Homo sapiens: one gene and its partners. The protein of the gene in region 7 purifies or fractionates together with the protein of the main gene of each other region. This does not show direct contact. Each region holds a gene or a part of one and is shown on either strand. Other genes may lie near its edges. The genes, in order: CPT2, PAIP2, ATF6, WAPL, DNAJC11, RAB4A and SCCPDH.

What was found.
Region 1: the proteins of SCCPDH (region 7) and CPT2 fractionate together in Homo sapiens (co-fractionation; one large-scale study listed by BioGRID). This does not show direct contact.
Region 2: the proteins of SCCPDH (region 7) and PAIP2 purify together in Homo sapiens (affinity purification with mass spectrometry; 3 studies listed by BioGRID and IntAct, with this or other methods). This does not show direct contact.
Region 3: the proteins of SCCPDH (region 7) and ATF6 purify together in Homo sapiens (co-immunoprecipitation; one large-scale study listed by IntAct). This does not show direct contact.
Region 4: the proteins of SCCPDH (region 7) and WAPL purify together in Homo sapiens (affinity purification with mass spectrometry; 3 studies listed by BioGRID and IntAct, with this or other methods). This does not show direct contact.
Region 5: the proteins of SCCPDH (region 7) and DNAJC11 fractionate together in Homo sapiens (co-fractionation; one large-scale study listed by BioGRID). This does not show direct contact.
Region 6: the proteins of SCCPDH (region 7) and RAB4A purify together in Homo sapiens (affinity purification with mass spectrometry; 3 studies listed by BioGRID and IntAct, with this or other methods). This does not show direct contact.

Annotation. Positions count from the first base shown.
Region 1 is NC_000001.11:53,199,824-53,203,323, forward strand, and holds part of CPT2 (carnitine O-palmitoyltransferase 2, mitochondrial isoform 1 precursor), read left to right. Parts: intron 1-895; coding exon 896-976; intron 977-2,499; coding exon 2,500-2,606; intron 2,607-3,500. UniProt on the Homo sapiens protein: Involved in the intramitochondrial synthesis of acylcarnitines from accumulated acyl-CoA metabolites.
Region 2 is NC_000005.10:139,344,854-139,348,353, forward strand, and holds part of PAIP2 (polyadenylate-binding protein-interacting protein 2), read left to right. Parts: intron 1-3,500. UniProt on the Homo sapiens protein: Acts as a repressor in the regulation of translation initiation of poly(A)-containing mRNAs. Its inhibitory activity on translation is mediated via its action on PABPC1.
Region 3 is NC_000001.11:161,846,320-161,849,819, forward strand, and holds part of ATF6 (cyclic AMP-dependent transcription factor ATF-6 alpha), read left to right. Parts: intron 1-129; coding exon 130-261; intron 262-3,500.
Region 4 is NC_000010.11:86,511,793-86,515,292, reverse strand, and holds part of WAPL (wings apart-like protein homolog), read left to right. Parts: intron 1-3,500. UniProt on the Homo sapiens protein: Regulator of sister chromatid cohesion in mitosis which negatively regulates cohesin association with chromatin. Involved in both sister chromatid cohesion during interphase and sister-chromatid resolution during early stages of mitosis.
Region 5 is NC_000001.11:6,642,817-6,646,316, forward strand, and holds part of DNAJC11 (dnaJ homolog subfamily C member 11), read right to left. Parts: intron 3,163-3,500; coding exon 2,973-3,162; intron 2,311-2,972; coding exon 2,225-2,310; intron 1,859-2,224; coding exon 1,742-1,858; intron 1-1,741.
Region 6 is NC_000001.11:229,295,111-229,298,610, forward strand, and holds part of RAB4A (ras-related protein Rab-4A), read left to right. Parts: intron 1-737; coding exon 738-800; intron 801-2,371; coding exon 2,372-2,526; intron 2,527-3,500. UniProt on the Homo sapiens protein: The small GTPases Rab are key regulators of intracellular membrane trafficking, from the formation of transport vesicles to their fusion with membranes.
Region 7 is NC_000001.11:246,737,909-246,741,408, forward strand, and holds part of SCCPDH (saccharopine dehydrogenase-like oxidoreductase), read left to right. Parts: intron 1-2,263; coding exon 2,264-2,393; intron 2,394-3,500.

The DNA of each region.
Region 1 (3,500 bases), about 190 Mb from region 7:
AGTATATCTTATATTAGGCTTTTAAACTGCTTTATGTATCATGTTTCAGTTTTCCTAAATGACTGATACATTTCAGTATTTTGCATATCAGTGTTAATTTTGAGTTGGTAGAGGCAGCCTAACAAACTCTGATTGTTTTGCTATTAGGGGATATTTCCTTCAATAAAACCAATGAATTGAAAGAGAAAATACACCTCACTTTACTGTCCATGTGTTTTCATTTCACAATAAGCCAGTAACTTCATCACCATAGCCATCTTTGGGAATCACTAGTAGACAGAATGATAAGTAGGCAAATTGCTGTTCCTGTTATTTAAGCACAGGGACTATTTGGTTCTTCCTAATGGCGTTCCTGGTATCTGGGCATGGCTCACTGGTCGATTCCTACCTTTTAGTGACTGTAGCCCCCATATATGGCTGGCCCTTGGACAGATCTGTGTTTCACTCTTATATAATTATTTGTTGTAAAATGCAGAAGAAAATTTAAAAAATAGAACCTTTTCATTTTATCCTAGGGGAGAAAAATGCAGTTGTTCAAACTAAGGGTAGAATTAAATCAGGGCCAATACAGTGTTAGCACAGGTGTTATCATTGTGACCAGAAAACAGGAATTCTTGGGGCAGCTTCTGCTTCCCCATTTTGAATCTATTATTGTTATTTAAAATAATTATATTTGTATTTTACTTAAAGATTTAGTTGTTATTTTACTTAAAAGTAGAGTTACCATTGATATACTTGGCATTAGTAAACCCATTGATTCTGATTTGTCAGTCGCTTCTGATTATTGGTTTTGGGGGAGGAAATTAATGATCTAGTAATCAGTTCATTAGCTTGTAAAGCTAATTAACCTCTTCCATATACTGTCAGCCTTACACTGACCCTGCTTTCTCCCCAGGCTGCCTATTCCCAAACTTGAAGACACCATTAGGAGATACCTCAGTGCACAGAAGCCTCTCTTGAATGATGGCCAGTTCAGGTAAACACTGAGAACCTTGGGTGAGCATAGTTGGGGTGGTTCAAGACAGGCTGGCAAGTAGTGGTGGACCAAGCTTCAGGGAATGTCTGTGACGTGGCTGGGTCTCCAGGAACCCAGAACCTAGTTGTACATCTGCAAGTTCAGGAAATAGATTTTCATTCATGAAGGACTGACCAAGCCCCGAGAGTTCCTCTAAACAGGCTCAACAGGAGATAGTTTATAAGCCAGAATGCCAAATGTGTACTTTCCCTTAGCAGGTGTACCTGGGAGGCTCGCTGGTCCTGGTCATTTATAGAGAGCATGTACCCTTGGAAGGGAGGTCCATTGAGGAGACCATACGGCAGACCAGAAGTCTGCATCGTGAGCATGTTTATTGAGTTGGATAGCATGCCTCCAAAATTTATGCCCTTTTTCATGAAATTTAGTATATGATCTTATTTGGAATTAGGGTTGTGGCAGATGTAATTAGTTAAGATGAGGTCCTACTGGAGTATTGTGGGTCCTTAATTAAATATGACTGGTGTCCTTGTAAGAAGACACAGAGACAGCGGTGTGAGGACACAGGCAGAGATTGTGTCCTCTGCCTGTGTCAACAAGCCAAGGCATGCCAGGGATTGCTGGCAACACCAGAATCTAAGAGAAAGCCATGCAACAGATTCTTCCCCAGTCTTCAGAGAAGATATAGTCCTACTGACACCTGGATTTTGTCCTTAAAGCTTCCAGAACTGTGAGAGAATAAATTTCTGTTGTTTTCAGCCACCCAGTTTGTGGTGTTTTGTTATAGCAGTCCTAGGAAGCAAATACAGCATGGAATTGGAAAATAATATCAAATATTGTCAAAAAGTGGATTGCATTAAGCTCTTATAGCCTAGTGTAGTACTCTTTTTCCATAATGGAAATTTTTCTGTACAGGTAACTGGCATTGTTGTTGGAATCACAGAACTCTTCACTGGACAGTGATGGAGAAGCAGATGAATTATCCATAATCTAGGCCTCTGTTTTCAAATATTTGTTATTAGTCATTTAAAGTTTCTCTTGATATGGTAATAGCTACCAGTTATTGAGTATTATGTTTTAGGATATTCTAAATCCTTAGCTTTATAAATATTTTTAATCTTGTAAAGTGGTATTATTATCCATTTTACACATCAAGAAACCGAGACTCAGATCAAGTAACTTATCCAAGATCACACAGTTTGAAAAGCAACAGAGCTAGGATTCAGACTTAACTTCTGTTGACTCCAGAGCTTGTGTCCTTTTCTCCATGCCAAACTGCCTCCTAGGATATGGATTATTTTGTGAGATGTTGATTGATTTTCCTAATCATTCATTTTAAGAAGGTAGTCTAGATTATCAATTTTAGATTGATTCCTGTTCTGGTTAGAGGTACTTTCTGATCTCATTCCAGGTTTTAGGGCTATGCTGTTGGGGACCCAAAACTCTATTATGAGTTCCTCGCCATGAACCTAAAAATCATGTATTCCCTACCATGGTTTGATTTTGTCTTTTCTTGAATGTTTTAGGAAAACAGAACAATTTTGCAAGAGTTTTGAAAATGGGATTGGAAAAGAACTGCATGAGCAGCTGGTTGCTCTGGACAAACAGAATAAACATACAAGCTACATTTCGGGTAGGTAGGCTGGGCTGTGGGTATGATTTCTCCCAGAGCCCTCCATAATGAAAAGTAAGGCATATTCTCTCCTGTTTTGGTCTCAGAGATATTTTTGGTGAGACCAGCAAATGAAGTAACGTCTCATCCTCCCTTCCTGAGGTAAATTAAGGCTGAGTGTGTTCCTCCTCTACTGAGGTGTTGACTTGAGCCCATGCTCAAGAATGATGGCCAGCCTTCTCTGTAGATGGGATTGAGGCAGAACCTAATCAATGGTCCTGTCTGAAAAGGATGCAGGATTAAGTCCTATGTCCTATATCATTCTGGGTCCTTCACTGTCAGACAGAACTGTCCTCTCCAGCCTCTTCTCTCACCACCCACCCTGACATACTTCCTGCTAAACTCCTCATTGCTCCCTGAACCCTTAGTCTTTCATTCTTTTGTGCCTTTATCCATGCTGTTCCCACTACCATTTTTTTGCCTGGCAAATTCTTCTTTTAAGATCCAAGGAGGATGGTTTTCTGTGAAACCTTCTCAGTCCTTTTTCCTTTCCATTCAGAGTTGGTTGCTTCCACCTCTGTTCCTACAGCACTTCTTTTAATTTAGTTTATATATTTACCAAGGTTATACATGCATATAGTTTAAAGAATCAGACAGTTCTATAAGGCTTGTTAGGAAAAACAGCAACTTCCTCATCATCTTATTTCCCACTTCTCACTTTCAGCTCCTAAATCTTTTGTTATATACCCCCGTATCTCTAAATTAGATACTTACCTTACTGCATCTTGATTTTTTTGCTTTAGTCATTAGCTATTGACATCTCACTGTAGAAGATTAGAATTCAGCAGTACTTTACATCCCACCACATATGTGGGATGTGTATACACATACTTCCTATCCCCTTATTTTCACAGC
Region 2 (3,500 bases), on a different chromosome or scaffold from region 7:
TTTAACTGCCCTAAATATTTAATCACCGAGATAGTTAATGCCAATTGTTATGTGCTAGGTTCTCTAACTAGGTACTATTATTAATTCCCATGCAACAGATGAGGAAACCGAGACTCAGGTTAAGTAACTTGCCATGGTCACACAGTTAGTAAAGCAGCCTGGTTCCAGAGCCCATGGGTTTTTGTTGTTGTTGTTGTTGTTGTTGTTTTTGAAACGGAGTCTTGCTCTGTTGCCCAGGCTGGAGTGCAGTGGCGCGATCTCGGCTCACTGCACGCTCCACCTCCAGGGTTCATGCCATTCTTCTGCCTCAGCCTCCTGAGTAGCTGCACCCGACACCACACCTGGCTACTTTTGTTTTTGTATTTTTAATAGAGACGGGGTTTCACCGTGTTAGCCAGGATGGTCTCGATCTCCTGACCTCGTGATCCAACGGCCTTGGCCTCCCAAAGTGCTGGGATTACAGGTGTGAGCCACCGCGCCCAGCCCAGAGCCCATGTTTTTTAATCGTTACCTTACTGTGCCAAATAGTAAAACAAAAAATTCGGTGCTTTTCACAGACTTCAGAGTGGAAAACAGACCAATTGAAAAATGTTGCGATCCTCTTTAACTGCCAAAGGAAGTATGCTTAAACGTATATATGCGTAAAATACGATTAAAAAATATGCAAATAAGGTAAGGATCACAGTGGTTCAAAACAGAGTCCAAGGGAATGAGAAAAGATGGTGCCTATGGAGGTAGATTAATGAAAGAAACAGAAGAGAACTATGCTTGAATTTTTTTTTTTTTTTTTTTGAAACGGAGTCTTGCTCTGTTGCCCAGGCCTGAGTGCAGTGGCATGATCTCATTTCACTGCAAGCTCCACCTCCCGGGTTCATGCCATTCTCTTGCCTCAGCCTCCTGAGTAGCTGGGACTACAGACGCTTGCCACCATGCCTGGCTAATTTTTTGTATTTTTAGGAGAGATGGGGTTTCACCGTGTTAGCCAGGATGGTCTCAATCTCCTGACCTTGTGATCCGCCCACCTCGGCCTCCCAAAGTGCTGGGATTACAGGCGTGAGCCACCGCACCAGGCCTATATTTGAATTTTAATGAGAATTCTTAAAAGATGAAACTAGTGGAGAAAGATTGTAAAACCTAAAAGATTTCTGTATTTTAAAATTCCATAGACAATATAAAAGGACACTGCTGGAAACCAATATGTCTAAGAGGCATTTCAGGAGGGGAAAAACAGCTGAAGACACAATAAAGCCCTAAGTTGATAAATTGAAAGGGTTTGCTGACTTCCAGGCAGTAGTACTGGGAAAAAATTGCTCTTACCTATCCAAAATCTGGTGAAATATATGAATTTGTTAAAACATCTTAAGCTGTCGTCTAGAACAGGATTTTTAAATTTTTATTTATTTTTTTGAGACGGAGATTTGCTCTGTCACCAGGCCGGAGTGCAGTGGCGCAATCTTGGCTCACTGCAACCTCCGCCTCCCAGGTTCCAGTGATTCTCCTGCCTCAGCCTCCCCAGTAGCTGGGACTACAAGCATGTGCCACCACGCCCAGCTAATGTTTGTATTTTTAGAGACGGGGTTTCACCATGTTGGCCAGGATGGTCTCAATCTCTTGACCTCATGATCCACCCCCTTGGCCTCCCAAAGTGTTGGGATTACAGGCGTGAGCCACCGCACCTGGCCTATTTTTATTTTTTGAGATGCAGTCTCCCTCTGATGCTCAGGTTGGAATGCAGTGGCACCATCTCAGCTCACTGCAACCTCTGCCTCCCAGGTTCAAGCAATTCTCCTGCCTCAGCCTCCCGAGTAGCTGGGACTACAAGCGTGCACCTCCATGTCCAGCTAATTTTTGCATTTTTAGAGACGGGGTTTCGCCCAAGTTGGCCAGGATGGCCTCAATCTCTTGACCTCGTGATCCACCCCCTTTGGCCTCCCAAAGTGCTGGGCGTGAGCTGCTGCGCCCAGCTTATTTTTATTTTTTGAGATGCAGTCTCAGTCTGTTGCTCAGGCTGGAATGCACCATCTCAGCTCACTGCAACCTCTGCCTCCCAGGTTCAAGCAGTGCTCCTGCCTCAGGCTCCCGAGTAGCTGGGACTACAGCTGTGCGCCACCATGCCTGGCTTAGTTTTTGTATTACTAGAGATGGGGTTTCACCATGTTGGCCAGGGCCGGTCTCAAACTCCTCACCTCAAGTGATCCACCTCCCTTGGCCTCCTAAAGTGCTAGGATTATAGGTGTGAGCCACTGCACCCAGCCTAGAACAGGATTTTTAAAAGGAAAGAAAATTGATTTTCTACAACATTGAAAGTTGGAATTATTGACAATAGATTATCAACAGGAAGCACAGACATCTCAGAATTCTGTTACAACTAATTTTTTTTTTAGCACATTTACATGGAAATACTCATGTTACAACTTTTTTTTTTTTTTTTTTTTTTTAAGACACAGTTCCGCTCTGTCGCCCAGGCTGGAGTGCAGTGGCGCGATCTTGGCTCACTGCTACCTCCACCTCCCGAGTTCAAGCGATTCTCCTGCCTCAGCCTCCTGAGTAGCTGACACTACAGGCGCCCACCACCATGCCCGGCTAATTTTTGTATTTTTGGTAGAGGCAAGGTTTCACCATATTGGCCGGGCTTTTCTAGAACTCCTGACCTCAAATGATCCACCCACCTTGGCCTCCCAAAGTGGTGGGATTACAGGCCTGAGCCACCACGCCAGGCCATACAACATTTTTATTCAAACATGAAGGCAAAAGATGTTTTGTAGCATTAGGAGATACACCTAATGCTAAATGACGAGTTAATGGGTGCAGCACACCAGCATGGCACATGTATACATATGTAACTAACCTGCACATTGTGCACATGTACCCTAAAACTTAAAGTATAATAATAATTTTTAAAAAACTGTGGTACATCCATAAAAAAAAAAAAGATGTTTTGGACACTGGCTTAGAATGATAAATCCTCAGGTAGCCTTTTGAACTATTTTACAAAGATAGGAAGTTAGGGGAAGATGATGAATATAAGAAACAACTCGGCCAGTGTGGTGGCTCATATCTGTAATCCCAGCACTTCGGGAGGCCGAGGTGGGCGGATCACCTGAGTTCAGGAGTTCTAGACGAGCCTGGCCAACATAGTGAAACCCCATCTCTACTAAAAATACAGAAATTAGCCAGGCACAGGCATGGTGTTACACACTTGTAATTCCAGCTACTCAGGAGGCAGAGGTTGCAGTGACCCGAGATCGTGCAGCTGCACTTTAGCCTGGGCAACAGAGTGAGACTCCATGTCAAAAAAAAAAAAAAAAAAACTACGAGTGATGAATTTATTTATTTATTTATTTATATTTTTTGAGACAGGGTCTTGCTGTGTCACCCAGGCTGGGGTGCAGTGGCGTGATCTTGGCTCACTGCAGCCTCTGCCTCCCAGGCTCGAGCAATTCTCCTGCTTCAGCCTTCTGAGTAGCTGGGACAACAGGGGACCACCACCAAGCCTGGCT
Region 3 (3,500 bases), about 85 Mb from region 7:
CTATGCCTAGCATTTTTGTTACGTGCATGGATCTGCAAAGGAATTGTGGTTTGTTTCACAGCTGCATGTAGCAGGCATATGTGTGACATATTTTTATTTCAGCTATTATTTCCTGTTTTTTATTTTCAGCATGTTGGAACAGGATTCCAGGAGAATGAACCCTAGTGTGAGCCCTGCAAATCAAAGGAGGCACCTTCTAGGATTTTCTGCTAAAGAGGCACAGGACACATCAGATGGTATTATCCAGAAAAACAGCTACAGGTAAGATGGCATGCATCTATCTTTTGGCCTAAGTGATTTAATGAAGCTGAAACAAGAGAATTATCTGTAGTATAACATTGCATCTAAATTGTTCGTGTATATTTTGAGTAGTAGAACACATAAATTACTGAAACCATTAATACATTTTACTTTTAATATTGTAAAATTAAATTTACTTTGAAACCTTTTGTAGTTTTAAAATTCCTATAGAGATGTAATCTTAAAATCTCAGTTTGTGTGCATTAATATACATATTGAAATATATACATATTATATATAATGTCTTTAATAATTATTTTATCTATCATGTGTTTATACATATAATACATCTAATATTTGTTACTGTCTCACCTGTGGATGGATATGATATGGTGGAATAACATGATTGAACCTATTTGCAGTCATTAGGTAAAATCATTTATACTCATTTATTGTGATCTTTGTTGAATCCCTCCCTTGTTGCAATTTAATAATGACTTGATAAATTTCCATATTGCTTGTCAATAGCAAAAGGCTTTAATTGTATAAAAATGCAATTTCTATATTATGTTAACTAGAAGAAGGTATAGTGGACATTTTTATAGTTGTATACTTTTTGATAAACATTTCCCTGTGTTATTTAGAATTTGTATTAGAGCCAAATGGAGCCAGGTCCTTGACTAACAAGGCAAAGGGAGGTCACAGTATGGTAACTATTGCACAGTATAATGCTTGAAAATTATTACAGATTTGTTTACTTTTATCTCTTTAAGGATTTGTAGGTTGAGGGCAATCTTTCTTCCTGATTTTTACTGTGTTACATCCATACTGTTGAAAGATGATCACCACAATCCTGCAGGCTTGTCTCCACTTAGCCTTCCTGAAAAAACTGTTATTTTTGTGGAGTACAGTATGCCAAGTCAGTGGAGGACCCAAAGGATTTTATGGCAGTAGCTGCAACGCAACATAGCAATGATAGATGTCATAATGTTGGAAAACATAGCATTTCCTGCTTTTTTACATGCCAAAATTCATCATACTTCTTAAAATATTCACCTTGATGATCTCTTAACGGTGCCCCTGAATATTGGTAGAGTTTAATAGTATATTTAATTTTCATAAGTAATTTGTGCAGGTTTGCCCTACGTGTTCTATAATTTTGAATTCTGTTAGTGTCCACATAAGATCCATCAAAAATTAAATTTAAATCTAATAGCCTTTGGATTTACGAGAGTTGAGATAGCGTCTTGCTAAAGAATAGAACAAGTTATGGATTGAATGCTTGAAATTACAGTTCAGGTAAGCTTTACAAGAATATTATTTATTCTGCACTAACTGCAGCAAGTAGAAGCCTTCCACATTAGCATAAGATAACATGGTGGCTCCCAGAAAGCATAGTAGTCTGATCATACTAGTTCAAACTAAAAGTCTGAATGACTTTCTGGCTGAAATTTATCAGCTTTCAGAGTAGTACATGGGATGCAAGCTATTTTTTCCCTCCCTTCTCCAAAGTCACCATTGAGTGAATAATCTGGGTTACTGGTCTTGGGGAAAAAAAAAAACCAAAAAACAACCCAGGAAAGATTATGGATTCTTGATTCCATGCAAGTCCTTTGAAATATTTTTCAGCAACTTGAGAGATTTAAATAAATGTCAGTCCATTAATTTGATGTTCTTGATTTTATCAGTATAAATACTGAATAAAAGATACCAAAAAATGTTTGTGAAACATTTGAAAGCACCTAATATTACTTTGTTCTGTGTTCTGAACTGAATTTTAGATGTTTTATCTATTTTCAGCCGTGATACCTATACATTTTTTTTAATGCAGCTTACTTTATGTTTCTTTTTCTAAGGAGAGCTATGAGACATGGTTCAAATAAAAAATGAGTAGATTCTAATCCCATAGTTTATAATATTGTATTAGCCTATCATTTAGTAATTAACTGCTTATATTTTTTCAGTCATAGAAATGTGTGGCATATAAATAGTATGACCATATAATGTTCTATCAAACTGGGACACTCTTAAGAAGGAAAGGTAGTGCTAGTAATAATTACATCAGAATACCAGTACTGCTGTCTTGGATAAATGAGAAAGGATGGTCACCCTATATAAGATGTCACCCAGAACTGATCTTTACTCCAAGAATTCTCATTAACTCTAGCTCCCTAGCACTGTCCTTTACTTTATTTACTTTAATGATTTATTTGTTGAATTTTTTTCTCTTGGCATAAAATGTTTGCAAGCAGACTCGAACTCTGACTGTTCCTGGGCTAATGTTGGTCTAATTGTCTCCAGATTGTATGTTGGCTGATTTTCTCTCTCCTTTAACTCCACCCAATCCTTGTCCTGGTATTTCTCCTATCAGACTTTTTTTTTTTTTTTCCAAAGAATATTTTTGGCTGATAGAACAAAGCCAGTTAGCACAGATGTGCAGAAATCATTACTAGAGTTCAGATCACAAATATATTTTCAAAAGCAGTTTTGGACTTTTCTCATGGACTACAGTGTTTGTATTTTTCTAAGTATGCAGGCATGATTTTTAAAATAATGCGTATGTCATAGATTTATAAGAAGAGGTGTTAAGCAGCCTCCTCTTAGAGGCATTCAGATTTATCAAACACAAGACAGATACTTTTTTTCCTTCTCACTCAATGCTTCATTTTAGGCTGATCCTTTTGTGTTTGCATTCATTACCTGTGCACCAACATGTCTGTTTTATTCCAAACAACTTAAACCTACTTAACCCTTACAGCCACAAGAGAGGACATTGAGAATATTCCTGGTGCAAGTTGCAGGGAAGAATGTTCTATATATCCTCTGCTATTGTTTCTTTTCTCTCGTGTGTGGCATAAATAGCTATCTCTAACTTTTAACTTGAAGTTAGCCTTCCACTCTGCCAGAGTTATTTCTGTTAAGGGGCCAGTGCTTTCTGCCATCTTACTTGCCCTTTCCTCAGCATTTGGCTGTGTGGGTCATTTGCTCCTTGAAAGACTTTCCTTTTGTGTTACTATGGTTTTTTAGTTTCCTTTTTTTATTGGCTGCTGCTTCACAGTAATCTTTGTGGGCTCTTTTTTTACCCAACTCTCAAGGTTTGGAACTGTAAACTTTTTTTATTTTCTTTCTGCCTAGGTGACTCATCTATAATTTCATGCACAGTTCATATCTATATGTCCTGATGACTCTCAAATTTATGTTTTCAGTCCAGACTTCTCTTCTGAGTCTCCAGAGTCACATATCCAATAGTCTCTTTGACA
Region 4 (3,500 bases), on a different chromosome or scaffold from region 7:
TGACATTTCTTTTTTTTCTTTTTTTTTTTTGAGATGAAGTCTCGCTCTTGTCCCCCCAGGCTGGAGTGCGATGGCGCTATCTTGGCTCACTGCAACCTCCGCCTCTCGGGTTCAAGCAATTCTCCTGCCCCAGTCCCCCCGAGTAGCTGGGATTTTAGGCACCTGCCACCATGCCCTGCTAATTTTTGTATTTTTAGTAGAGACGGCGTTTCACCATGTTGGCCCGGCTGGTCTAGAACTCCTGACCTCATGTGATCCACCCGCCTTGGCCTCCCCAAGTGCTGGGAATATAGGCGTGAGCCACTGTGCCCAGCCTGACATTTCTTGATGTTTTCAGATAATCTACAGTGTGGGGTGGGTGGGCCGGAGGAAGTAAGATTAAACTGTGCAAGTGGTGAAAGTGCTCAGGGCTGACTCCATCTTCCTTAAGTGTATGGTCTTTTGAGGAATGGGGCATCATTGGCAGGCAGGGGCCCTGATGGCAGAGTGTATTAATAAAGTTGAACGTTTAGGTAAGGGGGAAAAGGAATGTGGAAGTTATTCATAAGTAATTGTTTCTGTAGCTTTGCGGACAATATATCTTTATGTTAAATCTGTTGTTGGAAGTTGGTTGGTGAGACCAACCAGCTAAGTGGGATAATTGCTTCCCAGTCTATGTAGCTAAAATGTAGTTCTAATGCTGATACTGTGGACTGACTCTGAGTCCAAACTCCATTTTAATTGGTCTGTGAGGGGAAAATACATACTAAAATACAGGTAAATAGATGTTCAGGAACATCTTGTCCATCTTCCTTCCTCCTTCACAAAGGGTCTCTTAGTGGTCAGGGAATGGTGTAGCACTATGAATATTTCTTTTTTTCTCCTCTCCCTTGGTCATCCAGAGTTGCAACAACCTTGGCAGCTCCCTGTAGGATAAGAAGTGAATTTGAGGGAGTGCATTTAATTTTCATGGTAGACTTATCCTGTCTCTAATGTGTGCAAGTTAGTTGTTCTTATAAACCATTTGTAAGTTTGTATGTTTGTAAGTTTGTTATAGTTGTGGGGATGCTTTTGTACTTTGTGACTTTTCCTTTGTCTCTCCCCTCTAAACTGGTCATTTCTCTTGTGCCTAGACTGTTTTCTTGCATTATGTCTGTCAATTTTCATTGCCTTTACTCTCACTCAGAAAACCTTGTAATTTTAATTGAAATTTAGAAACCCAAACCTAAATTTTTGATAAAAGAGGCCTCTCTAAATCTCAAGTGGTTCCTAACCTTTTTTGCTTTAGGGACCCTTCTGAGAATGATAAAGTTTTGAACTCTTTTCTCCAGATGCAAGTATTCATGTACCTACTTGGGTCTCAGAAATCTTAGCAGTCTTTTGCAGGTCATGGTTAGGCATTTTATTTAAAAACCTGTTGCAAATTTTAACAACTCATTCAAAGTGCACAGGTGAAGTTCCGTCATATCTTTCCAGTGGAGTGTTGAGTGTCCTTCTCGTTCATACTATTTTTTTGCTGTAGAATTATATCACCTCAGTGAAAAGGGCTTATCCAGGCTCAGAATTATTATGTCATTTGTCCTGGCATTACGTTTTTAAGTGCATCTCTTTCTCTATAGGGGAGTATGTGGTTGATTTTTTTGACACTGTTAAAATTCTTTAAGTACTTTTATAACGGATAGTACTTTTAAAAATTTTGTTGCGGGTGTGGCGGCTCATGCCTGTCATCCCAGCACTTTGGGGGAGGTTCAGGAGTTCGAGACCAGCCTGACCAACATGGTGAAACCCCGTCTTTACTAAAAAAAATACAAAAATTAACCAGGTGTGGTGGCGCATGTCTGTAATCCCAGCTACTCAGGACACTGAGGCGGGAACTGCTTGAACCCCGGAGGTGAAGGTTGCAGTGAGCTGAGATTATGCCACCGCACTCCAGCCTGGGTGACAGAGCAAGACTCCAACTCAATAAATAAGTAAATAAATAAATTGTGTTTCACTTGAAGAGGAAACTTAGGATGAGGTCACTATAAAACATACAGTGGCTGTAATCCAGCACTTTGGGAGGCCGAGGCGGGTGAATCGCTTGAGGTCAGGAGTTCGAGACCAGCCTGGCCAACATAGTGAAACCCCCATCTCTACTAAAAATACAAAAAAATTAGCGGAAATTGCTTGAATCGGGGAGGTAGAGGTTGCAGTGAGCCGAGGTGGTGCCACTGCACTCCAACTTGGGCAACAGAGCGAGACTCCATCTCAAAAAACAAAAACAAAAAAACCCCGCAAAACCTACAGTAGTTCCCATTTTCCAGACAGATGCTTGGTGGGTAAGGGAACCAGAAACAAGATTACAAACTGAATAGGTACTGCAGGGAAGGGTTGTGTTGCTAAAATGTCCTGTTCCTTAAACAAGAAGAAAACGTTTATTATGAAACTTTTCAGGCACACAAAAATAGAATGGTAAAAAAAAACCTCATGTACTTGATTGTCCACCTCCAATAGTTGTATCTGGCAGATCTTGTTGCATCTGTTTTGCACGCTACTCTCTCCACTTCCCATCCTTTACTCCCTGGATTTTAAAGCTAGTTTAAGATTTCTGTTTCTATCTGCAAATACTTCTGTATCTAATCTTTAATTTTGAAAACAGAAATTTCTGATTGCAGTTGCTATTAAAGCCAGTCAGTTCTCAGCCAGGTGTGCCAATTAAAAATGACTGTTAGCAGGAGCTAAAGGTCCACCCTTCTAAGAGATCTCCAGGTATTCCTTAATGGTTTGAATCAATGCCGTCGGTAGTAGAGGCAAAAAGAAGGCTTCTCTTGCCTTTTATGCAAGGCTACTTCCATTTCTCATCTTTGTTCTGCTACAGGTTTTTAATCTGGACTCTAGAATAAAGTGTGCAAAGACTTATATTTCGGCTTGGCACACTTTTCTTGCCAGCCAGCTGGGATTCAGTCTACATATCCTGCCAAATATTGAGATAACTACAGCATAGGCTCTTAATTTGCCTGACTGGTTTTGTAGCCAATAAATTTTTTTAATTTGCTTAAAGCTGTAATGAGTATTTGTGTAAGTTAGAGGGATGGTATTGTCAGGAGATTTTGAACTTGGATTTAGAACTGAAGGTGATTTTTTAGAAAGGGAAATGTTTTATTACTGAAAGTTTAAAGTAGGACAGGAACTTGTGATCTGAGATGAGATTGTCATTGGATAAAGTACAGATGATATGAGGATTATTATTATTTTTTAAGTCCTGAAAGGATAGTATCAGCAAGAGTTACCTGCCTTTATTTATTGAATGTATTTGTTGTGTAGAATATATTTAAATCATACCGAAAATCAGCTTCTTTTTAAGAGAAGTGGATAAGACCTATTATTTCTTTTTTTATTTTTATTTTTATTTTTTGGAGACAGGGTCTTACTCTCTCATCCAGGCTGGAGTGCATGGCTTATCACAGGTTCTACCTCCTGGGCTGAAGCCATCTTCCCTCCTCGGCCTCCCCAGTAGTTGGGAGTACAATGGTTCACCACCA
Region 5 (3,500 bases), about 240 Mb from region 7:
GTAGAGATTAGGAAGAGAAAGCTGGACAAATATATGAGCTGGAGATTGAGGGGGTGGTCCAAGCTGGCACTTGCAACGTGAGTCCTCAGGGCATGAGAGCCATGAGGCTGGACATGACTGCTTGGGAGTGAGTCGAGAGAGAAGGGCTGTGCCCTGCAGTGGTGCCTCCATTTAGGGGTTTGGGAGACAGCAGCCATCTGGTACGGAAAGCCAGAGCAGGGCGTGGTATCCTGGAAACTCAGGGCAGAGAGGCTGTAAGGGCAGGAGGGAACGGCCACCGCGACAGCAGGTGCAGAGACCAAATGAGATGAAGAAGAATCACCCTCTGATCTGCCACAGGAGGGAGGGTGCCCCACTGATGAGGTGAGAAAGGCTGATTCTGGAGAGGGCTGGTTTTGCTGGAGAGGCCTGACTGGAGCACGTTTAGAAAGAAAGAAGACGGATGCAAGCGAAAACAGACATTTTTTTTTTTTTTTTTGAGTGGAGTCTCGCTCTGATGCCCAGGCTGGAGTGCAGTGGCGCCATCTCGACTCACTGCAAGCTCTGCCTCCCGGGTTCACACCATTCTCCTGCCTCAGCCTCCCAAGTAGCAGAGACTACAGGCGCCCGCCACCACGCCCGGTTAATTTTTTGTATTTTTAGTAGAGACGGGGTTTCACCGTGTTAGCCAGGATGGTCTCAATCTCCTGACCTCGTGATCTGCCCGCCTTGGCCTCCCAAAGTGCTGGGATTACAGGTGTGAGCCACAGTGCCCGGCCAAAACCAGACAACTCTTTTGAGGAACTAAGGAGAGGACAGTGACTAGACTCAGGTGGAGCAAGGGTATGTGTGCCAATGGAAACCCCTGGTGAGAGGGATGAACCGATATGGCAGCTGCTACTGGAGATGCTGTGCCCGGGGGATAGCTGCCAGGCCAGTGACTCCAGGAGGACTGGGCTGCTAGGATGCATCCTGTGACATCAGGCGAGGCTGCTGGAGCTCAGACGTACACCTCACTCACTCGGTGTTGGAACTATGCACTGCTTGACATTTGCTTACTCAGCAAAGACACAAGCAACTGTATTTTTTTTTTGAGATGGAGTCTCACTCTGTCACCCGGGCTGGAGTGCAATGGAGCGATCCTGGCTCACTGCAAGCTCCGCCTCCTGGGTTCAAGCGATTCTCCTGCCTCAGCCTCCCGAGTACCTGGGACTACAGGCACCCGCCACCACCCCTGGCTAATTTTTTGTATTTTTAGTAGAGATGGGGTTTCACCATGTTAGCCAGGATGGTCTCGATCTCCTGACCTCGTGATCCACGGCACCTGGCTGAATTTTTTTTTTTATATTTTTTGAGACGGAGTCTCACTGTCCTCCAGGCTGGAGTGCAGTGGCACGATCTCCATCTCAGCTCACTGCAACCTCCGCCTTCGGGTTCAAGCAATTCTCCTGCCTCGGCCTCCCAAATAGCTGGGATTATAGGCGTGTGCCACCACGTCTGGCTAATTTTTGTATTTTCAGTAGAGATGGGGTTTCACCACGTTGGCCAGGCTGGTCTCAAACTCCTGACCTCAGGCGATCCGGCCGCCTTGGCCTCCTAAAGTGCTGGGATTACAGGCATAAGCCACTGCACCTAGCCAAGCAACTGTGTCTTTAAGAACAAAATTACAATGCAAAGGCTATTTCAGCCTTAACTTGGGTAAAGCCTGGTTGAGTGAAGGTGACAGGCATTCCTTGACCCGAAAGGCCTAAGTTCAACTTACTTGACTTTGAGAGAAACACCCTGTGGAACTCCAACGCTGACAGCTGCACCCAAAACGCTGTGCCTGGAGATCTTCCTCTCAGCTCCGTACTCCACCACCGTCCCAAAGAAGCCTGCTCTGCAGGGAGAGAACGCGGTCTGTGCCTGTGCCCCTCATTCATCACTTCAGGGGCAGCTGTCATTTGAGAAGAGGCCAGGTACCTTCCCTTCCCTCCCTCCAGCCTCCTCGACCCCCAGGGAGCAGATTCATGACAGAAGAAAGTTGGGACACCCATGGTCTAGTTCTTCCACAACACTCTCTAAGCTCCTCAAGGGCTGGGACTGTAGTGTTAAATCCCCCACAGCCTCAAAATAGGAAGCTCTCCAAAAATGTCACACACACGTAGATATTCACACGAGCAAGGTGTCTTACACCAACTGGTTCCACTGTGAAGACCCGCATGCAGTACCAGTGTGCTTCCATTTTAGCCAGGCCAGGACTTACTTGAGGGATCCTTTCACACGAGTCTGATCGTCATCTTGGAATTTGTGCTGATAGCTGATCAGTGCAAAGGAGTGAGGGATTCCCAGCTGGGGAGACAGAGGGTGCAAGGATGCGTGGCTAGGGCGTGTGACTCTGTGGGGAGATGGGTATCTGCCCTCCCACTAGCTCTGGGCATCTGCTGCACACAGGCCTTTAAGGCAGGGGTCACGGTCTGGCAGCCGCAGTGAGTGCACCATGATTTATTAGCAGCCAGTAATTAAAAAGTGGGAGACTTCACTGAAAACCCAGTTTTCTAGCTTCTCACAAGAAATAAAAAACTCTGGTGACACTGAGCCTATGCTCCTAGGTGGCAGCGGCTGGTGAGAGCCAAGGAGCAGTGGCCCGTGTGGGGCTTCTCATGTACCAGCCCTGGTGTGGCCACAGGGGCGTCCGAGGGCATGATTCTGCTATGGGGCTTCATCTGCCCGCCCCCAATTCCGTGGGTGGCTCCCACCAGACATTAAGATGTTGTTCTGCTTTAAGATGATCCAACAAAGCTGCCCCAGGCGCCTGAAGGCAACTGCATTTCATACTCGAAGGTTCCACCAGGTCACTCGAGTGTGAGCACCGAGAGCCTGCCCCTCAGGGCCCTGTATGGGCTTAGACTTAGTGGTGATCAGGACGCAGGATTTAAGGGGAGCACTGAGTGCTTGGGAGGAGGGGTCCTCCCAGAGCTCTGTCTGCAGGAGATGATGGCTGCTCGGCTCACCTGCAGGGCCACAGTGAAGTGGCTGGTTTTAGTGTCTCGGACGATGCTAGTGTTCATGGCTGACTGGATACCCCATCGCCACTGCAGGTAGCCCACGGTGTTCTTGTCTAGGTTCCGAGCTAGGACAGTGGTCAGGCCGGGTCGGATTCCACGGGATGAAAACTGCAGAGCACAGTTTGTTGTCACAAAGCTGGAGAGACACAGAGACAGAATAGGTCCTGGATAGCACCTGCTCTCAGCTGTTCTGTTACTTCCTCTCTGCCTGGCTAAGACCTCACTTACTGTCACGTCTATGCATCCCTGGGCCAGCTCCCAGTAAAAAAAAAAGCAGGAGGTCAGGCCTCTATCCACACAGAGGGGGAGGGTCCTAGCCAGAATCTTCCTAGTAACCTCCCGACTCCCCTCAGCCGCCCTAACTTTAGCTACAACCAAATAGGCACCTGACTGTCTGCATTCCTATGCCAGCAGATGCAACCCCACTCAAGTTAGAATGGATGGGGGCCGAGGAGTGCAAGTCAGAATCACCAA
Region 6 (3,500 bases), about 17 Mb from region 7:
TGCCATACCTGGCTAATTTTTTGTAGAGACAGGGTCTCTCTCTCTTACCCAGGCTGGTCTCAAACTCCTGGCCTCAAGCAGTCCTCCCTCCTGGGCCTCCTAAAGTGCTGGGATTATAGGTGTCCGGCCACTAATGGGAAAAATCTCACAAAGAGGGTGAGATTGACAATGTAGGGGAAAACATGTATGACCAAAAGACGCCTTCTTGAATGTGAGAGTGGATATGACATACTGGGACACTCAGTTTTCCCGTAGTAATAGGGCAGGGATGCAGGTGGGTGTAGGGCCGTGGTGACTATGGATTCCTGTGGTGACTATGGATTCCACCGCGCCGAGAGGTGGCGAGAACTGGAAGAGATGGAGAAAATTGTGCCAGGGAGTGGGGTAGATGAGGAGCTCGCAGAGAAGTGAGTGGATTGCTGAGCCCCTTAGTGTCCATCTAGGGGGTGGTGCTGGCTTCCGCAGACAGCTCACCCTGCTAGGAGTTCTCAAAGGAGACATCCATCAGAGAGCTGCATCCGCTGTGAAGGAATCTCCTACTTGCCACAGTGATGTGATTTCAGGCAGAATAACCCCTCACATGTATGTTCAAATATCTTTGAATCATTTCTCTTTTAAACCAGTGTCTGTCCCTGTGTTGTGGTTTACAAAGCAAGCATGGGTGTTTTTTCATGGGAAAGTGGGATACAGTAAAGGGTCTCAATTGGTTGAAAGTAAAACCAGTATAATTCTTCCAGGTCCGTGACGAGAAGTTATTACCGAGGCGCGGCCGGGGCTCTCCTCGTCTATGATATCACCAGGTAATGCCAGCTCCCCCTGGTGAAGGAGGGTGCTCAGTGCCCTGCAGCCCAAAGGCTGGTCTTGGCGAGGTGCCCTCCGTGCAGTGTGTGCTTTGTGTGTCCAGGGACGGTGGTGTGGCTGGCATCCAGGAAGCCCCTTAGCCCTTCCATCTGGGGTCTCAGAGGTCTTTGAACGAGCCCCTACCACTGCTTTCCCCTGCAGAGAAATGTGTTTGTAAGGTTTTAGGTGGATAAAGCAATCCATGCTATTACATTACATTTCTTGACATGATGCTTGGACACTTTCCTTAAGGTTCACAAAGCTTTATGTATGGAAAGTTATTAGAAGTGAGTTGAGAGAGGGTGAGGACACAGACTCTGGGCTGAGATTGCTGGGTTCAAATCCCAGTTGCAGTCACTAGCTGATTGACCCTCTCAGGCCAGGTGCTTCAGCTGCCTGGGCCTTAGTTTCCTTGTCTGTAAGATGGAGATAGTAATAATCACATGATCCTCAGGAGGTTATTGGGAGGTTTAAATTAGTTAATGTGAAGCAGTTAGTAGCTGTTTGTGACATATGGCAATTTAACTGAAATAAAAAATTCTGTTCCTCGATTGCACTGGCCACATTTCAGGTCCTCAGTAGCTACATGTGGCTGGTGACTACCATATCAGGACAGATTATAGAACATTCCTATCCATGAGGAAATCACATTCAGCAGTGCTGATCTCAGTAGCACTGTCTTAGAAATGTGTCATCTAAATGGCATCATCTGGGGGCCCTTTCTGGGTAGGAACCTGTCCAGTGAGAGGATGTCACTCAGCAGCCGCTTCCCTCTTCCAATCTGTGTCCCGGGAGCCAGGCGTTCTGAGAGGAGGAAGGCAGTTTCTGGCCCAGCCCTTCCTGCACTTGCCCAGGCAGTGAAAGGCTCAGCCTGCTAAAGTGTGAAGTCATCAATCAGGCTAGCAAAGTGCCATGAGAAGAACTCAATCCTTAGACACATGAGGGCCAAAAATAGTAAGTCTGAGAGTTGGTCCTGGAGTCAGACAGAGCTGGTCAAGTCCTGACTTTGCCACTGGCTGCTGTATGACCTAGGGCAACGTAATTAATCTCTCTGGGCCTTGGATTTCTCAGAGAAAAGGGGAATAATGGCAGTCTGTGTCATGGAATCTTTATAAAGAATCAATGTGATAAAGTCCTGTAAAACAAAGTGCTGGCACATTGCAAGGATTCATTAAGTGGCAGCAATTAGCTATGAAATCTTGCCTACCAGAGTCTAGTGCCTTGCGCATGCTAAGAGCTCAATAGATATTTGTCAATTGAATGAAGGAACATCTCTTTCCTTTTGCCCCATGACTGGGCAAACGAAAAATAACAAAATATCTCACTTGCTGTCTCATTTTACCAGAAACAAAATGGAACAAACTGTGGGTATGGTATATACTTGGTGCATTCACGTTGTCTGAGTTATCTTAAAGGTGTTGGTGCCATTACCCTGAAATGTTGAAAAGCGGTATGAGTAGTGAGAATGACTGGAAAGAGTTGCTAGTTTTATAAAATACATGTATTATTTTCACAATCTTATATTACGCAGCCGAGAAACCTACAATGCGCTTACTAATTGGTTAACAGATGCCCGAATGCTAGCGAGCCAGAACATTGTGATCATCCTTTGTGGAAACAAGAAGGACCTGGATGCAGATCGTGAAGTTACCTTCTTAGAAGCCTCCAGATTTGCTCAAGAAAATGGCAAGTGACCTTTTACTTCTTACTATTTTTCAAATCGCATATTTGAGGATAATAGCATTTCTTTGAATTTAAAACATATATTGGAATTTCAAGATTAAACTAGATTTAGGAAATGTGGAATTTCCAATTGTTTTTTTCTATAAATTAGACCTATTAAGCATATTTTTAGTATATTGCATTCTGCCTGCAGAAGTTACTATAATGATAAAAGCAAATGTAGTAACATTATGTAATGACTTTTCAGTCTAGGGTCTTTGAATATTAGAGATCTTGGGCTAAAGTGAAATTAATAATATTTAAAGACTCTAACCAAATGATGTCATTATTTTTTAATGTATTTTGAAGGAAATTTGGTGAAATATTAACCCAAATAGAAAGGGAAGCGGAAGAAGAAATACTTGGCTTTTTGGCTTCATTTTAAGTCATTTGGTTATAGACAACTTTGAAACTTTTTTGAATTTCCATATAGAATACATGAAAATGCCACATAAAATTAATGGTTGCTTAATTAATGGATAAGAGAATGATTTTTTAAAACTTCAGACATTTTAAATAACTTTAATTTTTAGAACCAAAAACTAGAATCCTAATATCAATATTTGGACTCTAAGATTCCAAATTATATTGTAACTTGACTAGTTTCTTGCTAAGAAAATAAACATGAGAGAAATCCATATGCCATCATGACAGTTTTTAAAAAGCTGTTTAGAAATCAGAAGTTTAGAATGTTAACAAAGATGAAAAGGAATTTAGATGTCATCTAAACTCATTTTTACAAGTGAGGATACAAGAGGCTAGAGAGGCCATGGTTTGCTGAGAGAGCAAGCAGAACAGGCCTTTCTGCTGAGATGAACAGCCACTCTGGTGGGTAGAAAGAGTATTAATTCCTATACTGTCTCTTCATGGGCTGTATGACAGATTGCAATATAGTCCCCTAAAAAGTGTAAACACTTGTAGGTCATATTTGTGGTGAC
Region 7 (3,500 bases):
TAAGGAGTTGGGCACGTTGGCTCATACCTGTAATCTCAGCACTCTGGGAAGCCAAAGTGGGTGGATCACTTGAGGCCAGGAGTTTGAGGCCAGCCTGGCCAACATGGCGAAACCCCATCTCTACTAAAAATACAAAAATCAGCCAAGCATGGTGGTGCACGTCTGCAATCCCAGCTACTCAGAAGGCTGAGGCATGAGAATCACTTGAACCCAGGAGTTGGAGGTTGCAGTAAGCCAAGATTGCGCCACTGCACTCCAGCCTGGGCAACAGGGTCGGATCCTGTCTCAAAACAACAACAACAAACCTATTAAAGAACCAGAGGGCTGGGTGCGGTGGCTCACACCTGTAATCCCAGTGCTTTGGGAGGCCGAGGCAGGCGGATCACGAGGTCAAGAGATCGAGACCATCTTGGCCAACATGGTGAAACCCCATCTCTATTAAAAATACAAAAGTTAGCTGGGCGTGGTGGTGCACGCCTGTAGTCCCAGCTACTTGGGAGGCTGAGGCAAGAGAATCGCTTGAACCTGGGAGTCGGAGGTTGCAATGAGCCAAGATCATGCCACTGCACTCCAGCCTGGCGACAGAGTGGGACTCCGTCTCAAAAAAAAAAAACCCAGAGTATTTAAAGAACTTTTACAAGACAATAATAGAAATAAAGACAATTTATTTTAAAAATGGGCAGGGGATGTAATCCTAGCACTTTGGGAGGCCGAGGCACGTGGATCACCTGAGGTCAGGAGTTTGAGACCAGCCTGACCAACATGGAGAAACCCTGTCTCCACTAAAAATAGAAAATTAGCTGGGCGTGGTGGCAGGTGCTGTAAACCCAGCTACTCGGGAAGCTGAGGCAGCAGAATCGCTTGAACCCGCGAGGTGGAGGTTGCAGTGAGCCGAGTCTGCACCATCGCACTCCAGCCCGGGCAACAGTGCGAGACTCCGTCTCAAAACAAAACAAAACCAAAAAGGCAGGGATGAGAAGAGACAAATCTTCTTTGTGGAAGAATTCCAAATGATTTATGTAGCTTCTCCACATTTATGTGCAAGCAGCTGTGTGTGTGACTGAGTGTGTTAATGTGTTTGTATGTGTGTGACTATGTTAGTGTGACTTAATGTGTTTGTGTGTGCATGAGCAAGTGTGTGTGTGTGATTGTGTTCGTGTGTGTTTGTGTATGTGCATGAATGGGTGTGTGTGGTGTGTGTTTGTGTCTGGTATGTGCTTGAACAGGTGTGATTGTGTTTGTGTGTCACCTTCTGGGAGAGGGAGCATAAATTGACAGTGGAGAAACCTGGTGAACACTGCCTCAGCCAGGTGTTCAAGTCAGCATTAACCCTGGTAAATCATGTTGACAGTGCGTAGCCCCGATGTGATATGATATGATAAGAATAGCACTTTACCCCTGTGGTCTCTTTCCAAAACTCATAATAATAATGAGAAAAGCATGAGACAAATTCCAGTAGAGGGGCACTCTACAAAATGCCTGACCAGTACTCCTCAAAACCATCAAGGTCATCAGAGACAAGGAAAGTGTGAGAAACCGTCGCAGCCAAAAGAAGCCGAAGGAGACGTAACAACCGAATGTAATCCTGGATGGGATCCTGGAGCAGAAAAAGGGGTTCAGTTAAAACTAAGGGAATCAGAATGAACTGTGAACTTTAGTGAATTAAATCATATATGTCAGTACTGGTTCATTAATTGTAACCACTGTTCATGTAAAAGATGTTAAAAATAGAGAAAACTGGGTTTCAGAGTACTTGGGAACTCTCTACTATTCAATTTTTCTGTAAATCTTAAACTGTTTTTAAAAAGGAATTTCTAAAAACAGGCAGAAGAGCAGAGCAGACATTATTCCCCTGTGCCCTCTGCCACCATCTACTTTCCTGCTCTCTGTCTGTACGTGTGCGGAGCTTTATGTCTGTGATGATGTTCATCTGGGTAATGCTGTTTGGGGTCATTTTTTTTTTGCTTTCTATTTTTTATATTTTAATATTTTATAATAGGCATTACTTTTATATTTAAAAGTCATTCTAAAAAAATTAAGTGTCATACAGTCAGACGAGCACAACTTCTGTACCACCTGGTGTGCAGTAGGCGCTGTATTTGCCGAATAAGTGGAAAATATTTTGACAGTTAATGTTTTGCTGCAGAGCCACACTGCTTAGCATTTTCAAAGTTTGGTTGCTTTGTTTTTAAAGATAAATTATTTAATACTGGTCTACATCTTTCTGCATAACTAATTAAAATTCTTATCCTGGATTTTTTAGTTTCTGGAACTAATGCAACTGAAGTATCATGAGAAAGCTGCAGACAAAGGGGTTTATATCATTGGAAGCAGCGGCTTTGACTCCATTCCAGCAGATCTGGGAGTAATATATACCAGAAATAAAATGAATGGTAATTATTGATCAATAAGCAATAATGGAATTTAACAGTACCGTGCAAAGGCTTCATGTTTCTAACTGTGGTGAACTAAAATCTAGTTGAAAAAAGAAACATAGCCATAAATGGGTAATATTAAACACATGTTTTGTTTTTAATATAGCTGCACTTTTAATAAAATGCTATTGAGACTATTGTTGAGACATGGATAATACTGTATTTTACAGTGATATATTATTGTCTCAGTATAGTTTGGGCTGTAAAATTTCTGGAAAACAACTTTGGCAACGTTATAAATTCAAACTTGCTTTGTTTAGGAATCAGCACATTTTAAAGCATAATTTGTATATTATAGTTAAAAGGTTTTAAATTTTTAACCGTCAAAGCTAGAAAGTATTGAACACAGAATTGGAGACACTTATTTAAGAATGGAGAAAATAATGTTACGATAAAACATTTGAAGTTACTGATGTTTTGCATATTTAAGAGTGTCTGGTTTAGAAAATTACCTGAGCAGGGTGTGGTGGCTTACACCCATAATCTTAGCTACTTGGGAGGTTGAGGCAGCAGGATCTCTCGAGGCCAAGAGTTCAGGACCAGCCTGGGCAACATAGTAAGACTCGTCCCTAAGAAATAAAAAAAAATTAGCCAGGTGTGGTGGTGCACACCTGTAGTCAGTCCCAGCTCCTCAGGAGGCTGAGGTAGGAGGATCACTTGAACCCAGGAGTTTGAGGCTTTAGTAAGCTATGATTGCACCACTGCACTCTAGCCTGGGTTACAGAGTGAGACCTTGTCTCTTAGAAAAAAGCAAAAAAACAAAAAAACAAAAACAAAAAACAAAACTGAAACAGGTAACTTCAGTACCATATAAAGTGTTCTAGACTTAAAAAATTGGAAAATGTTCCAGCATATATTAAAAAGTTAGCATAACTATGAAACCAAAGTCCAACAAAGATAGCACACACACACACAAACTACAAATCTTGCTTATGAAATTAAAAGTAAAAAGAAAATACTATATAAAATTTTAATCCAGTGCCATTTTAAAAAGTTTTTTAAGAGACAGGATCTTGCTCTGCCGTAGCTCACCGTAACGAATGCCTGGGCTCAGGCAGTGCTCCC